2 separate regions of the Homo sapiens genome follow, and region 1 is linked to region 2. The links come from fine-mapping of genetic effects on gene expression. Tissue or cell type: sun-exposed skin. Region 2 holds a variant in brackets; the other region holds the start of a gene. All regions are shown on one strand. Distances are between the middles of the regions.

What was found. PIP is the estimated chance that this variant, and not a neighbour inherited with it, causes the effect.
Region 1: it holds the start of WIPI2, and the variant in region 2 is fine-mapped to the expression of WIPI2 in sun-exposed skin (GTEx, PIP 0.97).

Annotation. Positions count from the first base shown.
Region 1 is chr7:5,185,460-5,193,629 of GRCh38, forward strand. WIPI2 (WD repeat domain, phosphoinositide interacting 2) reads left to right here and starts at 4,774. Exons shown (of 13, transcript NM_015610.4): 1 at 4,774-5,034; 2 at 7,659-7,712. The coding sequence starts at 4,961. RefSeq lists silencers at 1,756-1,885, 4,559-5,208, 5,219-5,268.
Region 2 is chr7:5,230,356-5,238,527 of GRCh38, forward strand. WIPI2 (WD repeat domain, phosphoinositide interacting 2) reads left to right here. Exons shown (of 13, transcript NM_015610.4): 13 at 480-3,485. The coding sequence ends at 592. Among named protein-coding and RNA genes, the nearest start is that of WIPI2, 44 kb to the left of the region's middle. RefSeq lists an enhancer at 1,602-1,751 and a silencer at 4,318-4,377. The variant A/C (reference allele first, on the strand shown) is at 3,697.

The DNA of each region.
Region 1 (8,170 bases), 45 kb before region 2:
ATACCAAAATTAGCCGGGCGTGGTGGTGGGTGCCTGTAATGCCAGCTACTTGGGTGGCTGAGACAGGAGAATCGCTGGAACCTAAGAGGTGGAGGCTGAGGTTACAGTGAGCCAAGATTGTGCCACTGCACTCCAGCCTGGGCGACAAGAGCAAAACTCCATTTAAAAAACAAAAAAACAAAAAACAAAAACAAAACTTTAGTAGGTAGTGCCCAAGTTTTCCAAAGTGGTTGAAACAATTTAGACTTTCATCTTGCAGTGAGCCGAGATCGTGCCACTGCACTCCAGCCTGGGCAACAGAGCGAGACTCCATCCACAGTGTATGAGAGTTCCAATTGCGCTCTATGGTCATCCACACTTGGGATTGTCAGTTGCTTTAATTTTAGCCAATTTGGTGGATGCTTAGTAATACCTCATTTGCCCTTAATTTGCATTTTCTTTTTTTGTTTGTTTGTTTGGTTTTTTTGAGATGGAGTCTTGCTCTGTCATCCAGGCTGGAGTGCAGTGGTGTGATCCCGGCTCACTCCAACCTCTGCCTCCCAGGTTAAAGCGATTCTCCTGCCTCAGCCTCCCGAGTAGCTAGGACTATAGGTGCCTACCACCAGGCCCAGCTCATTTTTGTATTTTTAGTAGAGACAGGGTTTCACCGTGTTGGCCAGGCTGGTCTCGAACTCCTGACCTCAGGTGATCCTCCCACCTTGGCCTCCCAAAGTGCTGGGATTACAGGTGTGAGCCACCACACCCAGCCTTAATTTACATTTTCTTAATGAGTATTAACGATGACCACCTTTTCAGGTGCTCATTAACATTCTGATATCCTCTTTTGTGAAGTGCTTGTGTTCAAGTATTTTGCCCAGTTAAAAAAAAAAAAGCTGTCTATATTTTTCTTATTGATGCGCAGAAGTTCTGGGTATAATTCCTTTGTCAAAAATATATATATTGCAGGCCGGGCGTGGTGGCTCATGCCTGTAATCCCAGCACTTTGGGAGGCCAAGGCGGGCAGATCACGAGATCAGGAGATTGAGATCATCCTGGCCAACACAGTGAAACCTCATCTCTACTAAAACACAAAAAATTAGCCTGGTGTGGTGGCACACGCCTGTAGTCCCAGCTACTTGGGAGGCTGAGGCAGGGGAATCGCTTGAACCCTAGAAGCAGAGGTTGCAGTGAGCCGAGATCGCACCACTGCACTCCAGCCTGGTGACAGAGCAAGACTCCGTCTCAAAAAAAAAAAAAAAAAAAAAAAAAAAAAAAATATATATATATATATATATATATATATATATATATAAAATAAATATATGTATCTCTAAATCTTGCCTTTTCTTCCTCTCTTAATGGTCTCTTGAAAATAGCCCATTCTTCTCAATGTTGATGAAGGCCAATCTCTCATTTTGTGGTTACTACTTTTTTTCTTTTGAGACAGAGTCTCGCTCTGTCACCCAGGCTGGAGTGCAGTGGTGCGATCTCAGCTCACTGCAACCTCCACCTCCCGGGTTCACGCCATTCTCCTGCCTCAGCCTCTTGAGTAGCTGGGACCACAGGCACCAGCCACCACACCCGGCTAATTTTTTGTATTTTTAGTAGAGACGGGGTTTCGCCATGTCAGCCAGGATGGTCTCGATCTCCTGACCTCGTGATCTGCCTGTCTTGGCCTCCCAACATGCTGGATTACAGGCGTGAGCCACCGCGCCCGGCCTGTGGTTACTACTTTTTAAAGAACTTGTTTTGTTTTGAGACAGGATCTTGCTCTGTCACCCAGGCTGGAGTGTAGTGGCGCGGTCATAGCTCACTGCAGGCTTGAACTCCCAGGCTCAAGCCATCCTCCCGCCTTAGCCTCTGAAGGAGCTGGGACCACAGGCGCACACCACCACGCCCAGCTAATTTTTGTATTTTTGTAGAGACCGGGTTTCCCCATGTTGCCTAGTCTGGTTTCAAACTCCTGGACTCAAGCAATCCGCCTGCCTCAGCCTCCCAAAGTGTTGGGATTACAGGCATGAGCCAACACATCCGCTTTAAAGTACCTGTTTAGACTACTTTGTTTATCCCAAAATCATGAAGGCATTCTCGTTTCCTTCTAGAAATTCTATTGTTTTTACCTCTCACATCTAGGACTGTAATCCATCTCAAATTAATTTTTGAATATGGTGTGAGGTAGGGGTACTTATTCCTTTTATTGAAAAGACCATCCTTTCCTCAATGATTTCCAATGCGTTCTTGACCCTATAATTAGAATTAACTTCTGTAAGCACTCATTAGATCGTTCCACTTTCCTGCCTGTCTTTAACGGCAGACCATTGCTCTTATGGACAATAATCAGATAATGGTCAGTTCCTTGCGTAACAATACGCAGCTTGATCTGGCCACCTCCTGTCTCTCCTGCCAAATCTTGCCTTGTGTCTGCCTTTCCACTCTGAACATAGAGTTCTTTGGACAGGTCACACCCTCATCCTCAAGCCCTTCCCATATAGAGTGTTTTCATGCCCTTAGACTAGTTACTCAAACTTCAGGTCTCATCTCTTCCAGGAGCCTTCTCAATAGCACAGTCCCTGTCCCTTAAATATAGGTTGTGTGACTTCTATATATGCATTCATGGTCAGGCACAGTGGCTCATGCCTGTAATCCCAGCACTTTGGGAGGCCGAGGCAGGCAGATTACCTGAGGTCGGAAGTTCGAGACCAGCGTGACCAACATGGAGAAATCCCGTCTCCACTAAACATACAAAAATTAACTGGGCGTGATGGTGCACACCTGTAATCCCAGCTACTCGGGAGGCTGAGGCAGGAGAATCACTTGAACCCGGAAGGTGGACGTTGCAGTGAGCCGAGATTGCGCCATCGCACTCCAGCCTGGTCAAGAAGGTGAAATTCCGTCTCAAAAAAAAAAAAAAAAAAAAAAAAAATATATATATATATATATATATATATATATTCGCTCATTGTACCCCCGAGTTTCTAATTATATTTATTTATTTTATTTTTTGAGATGGAGTCTCACTGTGTCGCCCAGGCTGGAGTGCAGTGGCATGATCTCGGCTCACTGCAGCCTTCACCTCCTGGGTTCAAGCAATTCTCCCATCTCAGTCTCCTGAGTAGCTGGGATTACAGGGCCGTGCCACCACAACTGGCTAATATTTTACATTTTTCCTAGAGACAGGGTTTCACCATGTTGGGCAGGCTAGTCTCAAACTCATGACCTCAGGTGATCCACCTGCCTCAGCCTCCCAAAGTGCTGGGGTTACAGGCGTGAGTCACCATGCCCAGCCTATTTTATTTTACTTTTTAGATGGAGTCTCACTCTGTCGTCCGTCCAGGCTGGAGTGCAGAGGTGCAATCTCGGCTCACTGCAACCTCCACCTGTGGGGCTCAAGCAATTCTCCCACCTCAGCCTCCCTAGTAGCTGAGATTACAGGTGCCCACCACCATACCCAGCTAACTTTTGTACTTTTAGTAGAGACGGGGTTTCACCATGTTAGCCAGGCTGGTCTGGAACTCCCGACCTCAGGTGATCCACCCGCCTCAGCCTCCCAAAGTGCTGGGATTACAGGTAAGAGCCACCACACCTGGCCTTCTATTTATATTTAAATATCTCCCCATTATAACTTCTCTGAGGGAAAGGAGGAGGCCTATTTAGTTCACATGAGAGGTGCGTCCTAAATACTGTTGAATGAATGAATAAATTTAAGGGACGATTCTGTCCCAGGAACCCAGACAGTATGGACCTTGGAGAAACAGGACGTTTCCAGTCTCAGATCTAGCACTTGGCTAATAATTATTTCTGAGCCTCGATTTTCAAATCTGTAAAATTAAGATATACTATTCTCTACTTAGGATTGTAATGGGCATCAAATAAGATAATGTGGCTGGGCACAGTGGCTCACATCTGTAATCCCAGTACTTTGGGAGGCCGAGGTGGGAGCATCACTTGAGGCCAGGAGTGCGAGACCAGCCTAGGCAACAGAGTAAGACCCCCCCCGCCCCCACCCCATCTCTACAAAAAACTTAAAAGTTAGCAGGGTGTGGTGGCATGCATTTGTGGTCCCAGCTACTTGGGAGGCTAAGGTGGGAGGATCGCTTGAGCCTGAGTTTGAGGCTGCAGTGAGCTGTGATTGAGCCTCTGCACTCCAGCCTAGGCAACAGAGCGAGACCTTGTCTTTCAAAATAATAAAATGATAAGGTAATGCGCAGAAGCATTCAGCACAGTGATTGGCACATGGAGGGCCCATTGGGGTGTTTTTGTTTTTGTTTTTGTTGTTGTTTGAGACAGAGTCTCGCTCTATGGCCCAGGCTGGATGGATTGCAGTGGCATGATCTCGGCTCACTGCAATCTCCGCCTCCTGGGTTCAAGCGATTATCTTGCCTCAGCCTCCCGAGTAGCTGGGATTACAGGCGTACACCACCAAGCCCGGCTAATTTTTCTTGTATTTTTAGTAGAGACGGGGTTTCACCATGTTGGCCAGGCTGGTCTCGAACTTCTGATCTTAGGTGATCCGCCCGCCTTGGCCTCCCAAAATGCTGGGATTACAGGCCACCGTGCCTGGCCATTGAGTGTTATTAAGAGGAGGGTACGCAGAAAACAGACTCCCGCCAGCTCTGCCCCATGCGCATGAGCGGCCGCCGCTCGCCCTCAGCCAGGCCCAGCGCGCCCCGACGCGTCCCCACGCCTGCGTGATCCACCGGAACCCAAGCCCAGGCAGGCGGTGAGAGGGCGGGGCCTCCGCAGTGCGACTGCGCCGCTCGAGGCCGTGCGTCGCGGGGGCGGGGCCGCGCAGGCGTACCGGGTGCCCCGGCTCTGGAGCATAAACAAGAGCGGGGACGGGATGAGGCGGCGGTTGATCCCAGGGTGGCGAGTGGCGGCGACCGAGGCGGCGAGCGGGGCCCGGCGCCGACCCTGAGTGCAGCCTGACCCGCCCTCGCGCGCGCGCCCTCCCCGGCCGGGCCCACTCGCCGCGCGCCCAGCCATGAACCTGGCGAGCCAGAGCGGGGAGGCCGGCGCCGGCCAGCTGCTCTTCGCCAACTTCAACCAGGACAACACGTAAGGCCGGGGTCGGGGGTCGGAGTCGGGGTGAGGCCAGGGTCGGACCCGGGCTAGGGGGAGGGCCTCGCTGCCAAGCTCGGCGGCGTCGCAGGCTCGGCCTCCCCGCGGGCCAAGGCGCGCAGAGGCGTCCCCAGGGGCGGGCCCGGGGCGTGCAGGGAGGGGCGCCCTCCAGGGAGACCCTCGGGTGCTGGCCTGGAGCTGCGGTCCCGGAGCGGGAGAGGTGGTGGAGAGGGGGCTGCTTTCACCCTCTTGCGGGGAGGCCCCCTGGCTTCAGACTTAACTACTTCTCGCAAAGTTGGGGCCGAACTTTGGGGCTTGACTTGTCTTGGCCGCCTGTGGAGCGCTGGGTGTGGGTCGCTTCCTCTCCTCTCGTCTCCTCTTCCCGCTGCTTGCTCAGCGTCTCCCACTCACTCTCCTTTGAATCAGGCCCTTCTCCTTGTCTTTTCATCGTCTTAAGACCCTTCTCTCTCTCTTGATTTTCTTTTCTTCGTTTCTCACTGTTTTTTTGTTTGTTTTTGTTTTTTGGGGTTTGTTTTGTTTTGAGACAGAGTCTTGCTCTGTTGCCCAGGCTGGAGTGCAGTGGTGCCATCTCAGCTCACTGCAACCTCCGCCTCCTGGGTTCAAGCGATTCTCCTGCCTCAGCCTCCCGAGTAGCTGAGACTACAGGCACGCGCCACTGTGCCCAGCTAACTTTTTTGTATTTGTAGTAGAGACAGGGTTTCACCATGTTGGTCAGGCTGGTCTCAAATTCCTGACCTCAAGTGATCCGCCCACCTCAGCCTCCCAAAGTGCTGGGATTACAGGTGTGAGCCACCGTGCGCGGCCCTCCCTGTTCTTTTTGGGACATCAACTTTGATGTCTTCTCCAGCAAGTAACAAACTTAGCAATAACCTTGGCATCTGACCTAGCTAGGGAGAAACTGAGCCAAGAGAGGCGTTACGGACCAGTGCCCCAGGAGTCTCAGAGCTCCAGCGGGTGGGTCATCCTCAGGGCAAGAGAAGGCCTTAATGCCAGCCCGTGCATTCGGAACGCTGTTTGTCCCCACTGATACGGGTTGGATGCTGCCTGGGAGGAGGACTTGTGGGGATGGTTAATAGATGAGCGAGCTTTCTGGAGAGAGAAGGGTGAGTTATGGGGTTGGCAGGGAGGAGAGCCATCTTGGAAGTGAGTAAGAGGAAGTGAGGAAAGAGAAGGAGTGGGGCATTTGGCATCTTACTAAGTCATTGGTTGAGTTGTTACTGGCTGAGTGGAATTAACATAGCAGAAGGTAAGATTCTTTAGGAAATTAAAAGTGAATTGTAGAATGGACAACACTCAGTGGGTGGTGTACAGCAGGCACTCAATAGCACCTCCCCAAAGCTGTGAAGACAGTCGCACAGTGGGACTGTATTGAGAGTCGGAAGGGGCAAATCACCTCATCCAACTACAGATGAGGAAATCCTTCCGAAAGGCTCCAAGCTGGTCTGGGTTTTGGAATTGGTTAATAGTGGAGCGGGGGCAGGAGTGGAATCTCGCCTCCTGAGCTCTCTTCCAATGTTCTTTCTGCTCTGCCATGCTGTTTTTTTTTCTGTTTACAGAGTAGAATTCTGAAGACAGTGAATTTAGAAATAATAGCATAACAACGTGTAAAGATGAAAACTCCCAAGTACTGTAGCGTTCTGTGTGACCAAAAGCCAGAACAACAAACAATTCGGACAACCTGTTGCAGTTCAAGTGGAATAGACTATGTTAATCCAGATAGGGAAAAGGACACATCCCAAACCAATTCTAATTTGGTTTTTAAGCCCAAGGCCACAGTATTTTGAGACCAGTAAGAAATGGTAGTAGTAGTAGGGTGGTTTATGCCTTGTATAAATTAGAGAGTTTCCAAAACATTGTCGGCCACTCTTTCAGTTTTTCACTAATTATTTCTATCAGAATGAAATCAAATAGAGAAAAGCATTCTCTTTTACTGTTACTTCAGCTGGACTGCCATGTTCCCTGTGTCACAGAAGAGTGTCACTCTGGCCTGAAATAGGACCTTTTCACACTTGGACATTTTCACACTTACCCACTTCTCCATGCTCCCCGAAGTTATTACAGTTCAAGAGATTTCTGTTACTTTGAGATTTCATAACTTTGACTTGCCAGAGAGACCTTGATGTAGTGTAAACCTAAATTGGAATGAATAGTAAGCTAGGATTATACTAGAAGTTGACTGGGCTAAAATGACGGTAATTTGTTTTAAATCTACACTTGAAAGAAATAGAGAAGTTCCCGGAGAGAGCTTTTATGGCTTATACCTTTTCCTCCCTTCTTAATCTCCAGAATTTATTGAGGAGCACAATTTTTAGCAAGTGAAAGAATGACCGTCTAGAACTCACATTTACTGTATGCAGTGAGAAAATTTGGAAGCCAGTTCACTTACTAGAATATATATGTTATAGGGTCATTTCCCTTTTTTTTGTCTTTTAAATTCTTTTTGTATTTGTTACATACCAAACTATAACTGTCCTGCCTTTCTTTACTGGTAATATGATTTCCAATGTCGTACTTTTTCATGATTCCTATCCTAAAAGTGTGCATAAGTTTTATTTGTTTTTTACCATTTGTTTTTTGTTTTGTTTTGTTTTTTTACCTAGAGAAGTGAAAGGGGCATCAAGAGCAGCTGGTCTTGGCCGTCGCGCTGTTGTCTGGTTAGTTCCAACCCTGGTTTCTGAAAGTATCACCTTGGAAGGCTTATGTTAGAGGACTTTTTTGGCTTTTTGAAATTGCAGTGAACCAGTTAATAAGTGGGAGAGGATCACTTGAATCTGAAATGGAAATATCAAGGACTACATTTTTCCAGTGGATACCACAGCTTGTGGGAAGTTAGTGATGTAGCAATGTCTGTTTTAAATGCCATGTCTAAAAGGGATGGAATGAAGAAAGGGACTTGACTTTCCAAGTCTTGTGTTTGTAGAATTGATGTTATGAAGTGTGTGGAGACAACAGGAGAAACCTGTTGTTTTCTTCCACCATGTCTCTTCTAGGTTATGCTTATTGTGCTGGGAAGGTACTGCTCTCCTCTCTTTGTTCATCTGTAAATCAAGGGTTTGGGTTTTTGTTTTTGAGATGGAGTCTCACTGTTGCACAGTTTGAAGTGCAGTGGCAT
Region 2 (8,172 bases):
CACAGCCTTGGCTATGTGAGCCACCTTCTTAAAAAAGCCAACTCGCACTCCAGTGGGAGAGCCTGTGGTTTTGCACCCACGCAGGGCTGTGCCTGCTCGCTGCCACTCCCATCTGTGAACCGGCACTTCCAGTTCATGAGCCCACCCTGAGAGTCTCCTAGTGTCATTTTTTTTCCTGGTGTTATTTTTGAGCTCTTAACCAGCTTGAGAGAGTTTGTGGCCCGTCCATGAGGGAGCCTCTGTTTACTGTGCAGGCATCATTTTGACATTTATGAATGTCAGAGAACAAATGACTTCATCTCGAGCTGCCTAAGGCTGCAAAGAGTTCATTAGAAAGCAATCAGAATTCAGAACGTCTTAGTACAGGCTTCAGTTTATAAATATACACCAGTGTTTCCAAAACACAGTCCTCAGTGTGTGTCATGGGGTCTGTGGTGTGTCCCCAGCCTTTGAAGGGTGACTTCGTCGTCTCTTTGCAGCCTACACAGACGACCTGGGTGCTGTGGGTGGCGCCTGCCTGGAGGACGAGGCCAGCGCCCTGCGCCTGGATGAGGACAGCGAGCACCCGCCCATGATTCTTCGGACTGACTGAACTTGACCTGTGACCTCTGACCCGGGGAGCAGAGAACACTGGCTTCACAGAGGACTTTGTGCATTGCTGCTATGAACTTTGACCTGAGTCGGGGGAGAGGATGGCAGAGACTTTATTAAAAAAAAAAAAAGATTGTAGTGGTAGTCTAACTCCATAACGCTGAGGAAATACATCATTTTCACTTCAGTGGCTTTTAAATCCTGCTTATGAATTTTAGCTTTTTGTTTGTTTGTTTTCTCTTTTTGCCAAAATTAACTGTTTGGTGAAGCCCGCAAAACCTCCTCGCTTTGCATGCATGAACGTGCCAAGCCAGCATAGGGGAGCTAGAAGCCACTTTCCAGCCACCTGCCGTTGGGTTTTTTCATATCTGTACATAATGCCGAGTGCGTAAGGAAACCGTGGCGTCGCGCACAGTGGGTCTGCTTGTCAAGGCCAGTTCTGCAGTGACAGGCCCAGGGGCTGCCCACCAGGTGTGCTGGGCAGACTTCAGCTGGGACAGAAGTCCGATCTCCCTAGGGCCCCACCTGGACCATTTTCCCTCCGTTTTATTTTGTTAATTAAATTCTTTCCAAATTGGATCGCTCTGGGATTTCTTCCATGGTGGACTTTTGTTTCTGATCTTGTTTTCCCTGTGGATATTGGAGGACAGCGAGGTTCTTTCTGATACTAAAAACCTTTCTTTCAGGCAGCAAATGAACTTGAAAGGTTGCCTGGACTCGCTGGAGCAAAGGAAAGCGATTTTGTTTGTATAATTAAATGATCTGTTCTTCTACTTCACTCTTCCTGTTGAAAAACTGTGTGATTTTTTTTTTTTTTTAAGTAAAGTTTGTAGCTCCTCCCATGCCCAGGAAAGCACAGAACTCAAGTGTGGTGGCCGTCTGAGCTGTCCTTTCGCTGGCCCCGCTGTCCGCAGGGGCTTCCTACCTGTGTGAGAGGTCGTAGCGGGAGACAGCAACAGAGAGTAGGCGGCTGGGCCACGTCCTTCACAGGGCGTCATGTGCCTTTCTATTTTCATCTTAGAAAATTTCCTCAGCAAACCGATGAGAGATTGTGGTTGCAAGCTTCAGTATTTGCCTCGCTTCCCTTCCCTTTTCATATTTACAGAATTAAAACAACCTCAAGTACCTCAGACTCTGCATTCCAAACCAAGGCACCCAGCAGCCAAAGTGTCGAGGGCATTTAAGTGGCATTAATGGCAGGAGAGATGGTTTTAGAATCTATGGAGTGGTGGAAGTTACGGATAGAAGGGAAAAGGCAAAAACTATTTACCCTGCCTTTGCAGGCTGGGGTTTTTGAACCGAGGAAGGCTGGGACGCCTGTTTCCAGATGGTTGTCATGGTCACGCTGGGCGAAGAGCTGGAGGGGAGTTGTCCCCTCAGCTGAGCGGCTGCGGTGAAATGCCCCAGTGTTCCTGGGTTGGCTTTACGGCAAACTAAATGCAGGGGACGCTGGAGTCCGACTCACCTACACCGGCTTCCTCCCAGCCGCTGGTGTGCGGCACACACAACATCTGCATTAGGCAGAGGTGCAAGTGGGCTGATTGAACTTTTCCTTCAAAACCTGCTTGTCTGTCCTGGACCTTTGATGAAATGGGATCCCGGTCACGCAGGCTGAGACAGTGGGGACCGCCGAGGCCAGAGTGGGCTATGCTTGAGCAGGGATGAGAAGGGCCGCGGCAGCACGCAGCCTTGACCCACGCCTGCGTCTTGTGGTGCAAGGCCAGAGGGCTCTCTCTAGAACCTGACCGTGCACTCCATCTCCTGGGAGCCACTTTTGGCAAGAGTGAGTGTGGGGGGAAAAAGTGTGCACAAGAGATACGGAACCCTGAGCTAGGGTTTCCTGTCACCAAAGAGTGAGCTGCATTTCCAGTTCTGCGTTAAAGTATCGTTTGTTCTGGTGCCTGCCTGTGGTGGTGATTTGGAGACTCAAATTTCCTTTGCCAGGTCTCTTTTGTCTTTCTTTGGGATTGGTAGTATAGAAGATGCTGGGAATTGTCTTCCTCGCTCAGCCTCGGCTTCCCGCACTGTAAGATGAGGCAGTTGCAGAGGAGGCCTCGGACGTCCTGTGACCCTCGGCCCACACTCCCCCTTGGGTGGCCCTGGCAGGGCTGGCTAGGTGCGTTCCCTGCAGACCACGGGAAGCCCTGTGCTTGCCTGGGTCAGGGCTAAGCTGTGCGCCCTAGAGGAGGGAGGAGGACTGCAGATTCTTGGTCGAGAAGAATGAAGAGGATTTCTGTGTTTGCTGAGCAGCCATTGTGGAGGGTTACCCGCCTCCACTTTCCCGTTGCCCATTTCACTGCCACCAGCTCCTCTTCCTCTGCTCGAACCTATGAGTCCCAGCCTCACTGGCGGCCTCAGACATGCTCAGGAGTGACGGGGACAGAGGGAGGCCGCTGAGTTGCCCGTTAGAACTCTTACTGCTGCGCCAGTGACCCAGGTGGAGAGGGACCCTGAACCAAACAGAACGTGTGCTAATTTTCCGAACTCCAAACTGTACACTCATATTCATTTTTAAATTGTATTTTTCCAAACTTCAAAAAGGACGATGAGCGTGGGGGATAGGAAACAAAACCTGTAAACGTTGTGAATGGGCTCAGTGGACTCTGGGACCAAACCTTCTGTAATCTCTAAAACAATGGGACCAAGAGCTGGATGGAACCTGGAGTCAAAAAGAACTGCTTCAGTCCCCGCTGTACCGCCTGCCTAGCTGTGGGAGCAGGCAGGGCGCCTGGGAGCCTGCGTTTTCTGGACCGTTCCATGGGACTCATCCCTACCTCACAGGGCTGTTGTGAGGTGTTGTGTGACTGCGTGTCCTGCAAACGCCCAGCTCGGTGCCCAGCCAGCGGTGGGCACCCAATAAACGCTACAACATAAATGTGTCTTCTGCAATTAAACACGATTTTTATTCAGTTCTGGTTTTTGAATAAGCCAGGCGGGAGGGAGGTGACAATACGGGTAAGAAGTGTAATTCAGAGGCTAGGCACGGTGGCTCACACCTGTAATCCCAGCACTTTGGGAGGCCAAGGTGGGCGGATCACTTGAGGTTAGGAATTCGAGACCAGCCTGGCCAACATGGTGAAACGACATTTCTACTAAAAATACAAA[A/C]ATTAGCTGGGGGGGTGGGGCGGGGGATGGTGCACGTCTGTAATCCCAGCTACTTGGGAGGCTGAAGCAGGAGAATCGCTTGAACCTGGGAGGCAGAGGTTGCCAGGAGCCAAGATTGCATCAGTGCACTGCAGCCTAGGCGACAGAGCAAGACTCTGTCTCAAAAAAAAAAAGTGTAATTCACATGGAGGTTACACGTGGGTCTCTTTCATCCCCGCCTTTTCTCAACACCAAGCTTAACGGGCAGGTGGTGCGAGCTGGTCTGGGAGGTGGTGGGCGCCCTGGAACAGCAGGCCCTGCCCCTGTCAGGGGACCCAGGAGCTCCATGGCTGCCGTTCCCTGCCACAGAGAGAACTGGGTGATTCTTCCCACGCACGGTTTCATTTGGAGAGGGGAGAGAGGGAGTCTTCCTACCTCCACAACCAGCAGTGGGCTCCATGTGTAAAAGGCCGGGAGTGCTTTGGCCACAGCTTAGCCAAGGAAACGGGACAAGGGGTGGCAGAAAACATGCTCATCCCTGTTGCTCGTCTGGTTTTTTTGGTTTAGTTTTTTGTTTGGGGGTTTTTGTGGTTTTTTTTTTTTGAGACTGAGTCTCGCTCTGTCGCCCAGGCTGGAGTGCAGTGGCACGATCTCGGCTCACTGCAACGTGCACCTCCTGGGTTCAAGCAATTCTCCCTCAGCCTCCTAAGTAGCTGGGACTATAGGCACGCACCACCACGTCCGGCTAATTTTTGTATTTTTAGTAGAGACCGGGTTTCACCATGTTGGCCAGGCTGGTCTCGAACTCCTGACCTCAAGTGATCCACCCGCCTCGGCCTCCCAAAGTGCTGAGATTATAGCCATGAGCCACCTCGCCCCGCTGCTCGTGGTTTTCATAACCACATTGGCAAAGGGTGGGGATGGGCCAGGCTTGTTGTTTCGTGTGTCCCCTGCCCTACATCTTTGTAGACCAGACCTTTGCATGCAGGGAATGACCGAGTCACTTGTTTGAAATGTACATGAGGTGGCTCATGCCTGTAATCCCAACCCTTTGGGAGGCAGAAGCGGGCGGATCATCTAAGGTCAGGAGTTCGAGGCCAGCCTGGCCAACATGGCAAAACCTGTCTCTACTAAAAATACAAAAAGTAACCAGGCGTGGTGGTGGGTGCCTGTAATCCCAGCTACTCTGGAGGCTGAGGCAGGACAGTTGCTTGAAACCGGGAGGTGGAGGTTGCAGTGAGCTGAGTCATGCCACTGCACTCTCACCTGGGCAACAGAGTGAGACTGTCTCAAAAAAGAAAAAGAAAAAGAAACGGACATGTGACACCATGGCCAGCAAGCAGGAAATCCAAATGCGTTATTTTACAAGCGTACTTAAGAGAGAGGCGGGACCGTTCGGCTTCAGCTCTGTGGTGTTGGAGATGTAAAAAGAACGTGCAGGGAAACCGTGGGACTTCTGTTTGGGTCGCCTCCCTGCTTTACATAGAATTCTCTTTTTTATGACTTATTTCTTACTGAAAATATATCATGATAATCATTGGCCAAGCAGATAGGGTTTTTCTGACGTATCTTTTAGTTCTGACCCAGGTCATAACCCTTCACCTATGTCATACCTTTTCAATCTGTGGGTTTTTCTGAAGCACAAAAACAAAACAAAACCAATCTCAGGGTTTTGAGATGTGACCAGTTCTTACCCTTCCCTAATAACCAGCTAGGAAAGTCTCTAATTTAGAAAAATGAGGCCGGGCGCGGTGGCTCATGCCTATTGTAATCCCAGCACTTTGGGAGGCCAAGGCGGGTGGATCACAAGGTCAGGCGTTTGAGACCAGCTTGACCAACATGGTGAAACCCCGTCTCTACTAAAAATACATGGGCATGGTGGCATGTGCCTGTAATCCCAGCAACTCAGGAGGCTGAGGCAGGAGAATCGCTTGAACCCGGGAGGCAGAGTTTGCAGTGAACAGAGATCATGCCACTGCACTCCAGCCTGGGTGACAGAGCACAGCTCTGTCTCAAAAAAAAAAAAAAGAAAAAAGAAAAATGAAATCTTTCTAAAGTTCAGAATGTGAAGAGACTGTCTTGATTCCTCACCTCTACATCGTTTCTTTCTATAGTTAGTTATAATGTAAATAGATTCCTCTTAACACTTCATTTTAGGTGAAGCTGTTTTTGGTGCTGCCAGTGTGCGTGCATGTGTGTGTGTGTGTGTGTCTGTGAGTGTGTGTGTGTGTGCCTGCCTGAGCTTCAGGTGAACATACTGATTACATTCCCCCACCAAATCTGACTGAAAGCCCATTGCTATCAGCATTTTATAACACGCTAAAGAATTGGACGTGGTGGCTCACACCTATAATCCCAGCTTCTTGGGAGGCCAAGGCAGGAGGATCGCTTGAGACCAGCAATTTGAGGCAAGGCCAGTCTGGACCACATAGCAAGACCCCCTCTCTTAAAATTAAAACCTGTGTTCTATTTTTTTGTTGCCTACTCACAGGCTGAACATCTCATTTGTTTTTGTTTGTTTGGTTTGTTTTTGAGACAGTCTCACTCTGTCACCCAGGCTGGAGTGCAGTGGTGCGATCTCAGCTCACTGCAACCTCTGCCTCCCAAGTTCAAGCGATTCTCCTGCCTCAGCCTCCTGAGTAGCTGGGATTACAGGTGCCCACCACCACGCAAGGCTAATTTTTGTACTTTTAGTAGAGACGGGGTTTCACCACGTTGGTCAGACTGGTCTCGAATTCCTGACTTCGTGATCCACCCACCTCGGCCTCCCGAAGTACTGGGATTACAGGCATGAGCCACCGAGCCCAGCCTTAAACATCTAATTTGTACCAAATTGCCCTATAATTCTACCTAGAATATTATAGCAAAATGCCAGAAGCCTGACTAAAATCTTTTAAAGAAACCCAACTCGGCCAGGCGTGGTGGCTCACACCTGTAATCCCAGCACTTTGGGAGGCCGAGGCGGGTGGATCACGAGGTCAGGAGATCGAGATAGTCCTGGCTAACACGGTGAAACCCCGTCTCTACTAAAAATACAAAAAAGTAGCCGGGCGTGGTTGCAGGCGCCTGTAGTTTCAGCTACTCGGGAGGCTGAGGCAGGAGAATGGCCTGAACCCGGGAGGTGGAGCTTGCAGTAAGCCGAGATCGCCCACTGCACTCCAGCCTGGCGACAGAGTGAGCCTCCGTCTCAAAAAAAAAAAAAAGAAAAAGAAAAAAGAAAACAAAAAGAAACCCAGCTCTCCCAGGGTGGGGGGCATTACACAGGGGAGCCCCTCCGGGTGTCGCCGCAGCTGAATGATTGCGTTGGTGGAACAGCTGGCCCGCTTGTGCGTGGGCCAGGACACGGTGGACCTGTTCCGCCTGCGTTCTTGCCGGTCCATGTTTGGATTAGCATGTGAGTTTAAACATAGTGCTGATGCGGCGATTCTTCTAGAAGCACATCCTTCTCTGAGCTGAATTGCTTCATCACACACTTCCTTCTGGCTTGGGGAGTTCCTTTTCATCAAAGGCCAAGCCTTGTGTGTTTCGGTCCTGCCCATCTCCGTGCGGCCTGCGGGACGTTGGTTGGCGTGGAGTCTTCACAGCCGGCTGTCCAGGCTGGCAGCTCTCCCATCAGGGCTTCTCACAGCCACCGTCTGTCTGAGCAGACGCTGAGCATCGTGTCATCCCTCGGACACACACAAGACTCCACTATTCCCTGTGCTGATTTCTGTTTCTGTTACAGCTTCTGCTTCTGATTTTATTTTTTTTTTCTTTGAGATGGGAGTCTCGCTCTGTAGCCCAGGCTGGAGTGCAATGACATGATCTTGGGTCACTGCAACCTCCACCTCTCAGGTTCAAGCAGTTCTCCTGCCTCAGCCTCTGGAGTAGCTGGGATTACAGGTGCGCACCACCAAGCCTGGATAATTTTGCATGTTTCTGTAGAGACGAGGTTCCACCATGTTTCCAAGGCTGTTCTCAAACTCCTGGCCTCGGCCGGGCGCGGTGGCTCACGCCTGTAATCCCAGCACTTTGGGAGGCTGAAGTGGGCGGATCACCTGAGGTCAGGAGTTCGAGACCAGCCTGGCCAATATGGTGAAACCCCGTCTCTACTAAAAAAGAAAAAAAAATTAGCCTGGCTTGGTGGTGCGCCCCTGTAGTCCCAGCTACTCGGGAGGCTGAGGCAGAAGAATCACTTGAACCTGCGAGACGGAGGTTGCAGTGAGCCAAGATCACGCCACTGCACTCCAGGCTGGGCGACAGAGCAAGACTCTGTCACAAAAAACAAACAAACAAACAAACAAAAAAACCTCCTGACCTCAGGTGATCCACCCGACTCGACCTCCCAAAGTGTTGAGATTACGGGCGTGAGCCACTGCGCCCGGCCCTGTTGCTGCTTTTAGAAGTGGCTTTTTCTTCCTGTGCGACATTACTTTTTAGTGGGTCAGCGCAGAAATGTGCTTGGGCTCCCTGCGACGGCGAAGCACCTTTCCTCAAGGGAATCTGAAGACTTTTCCC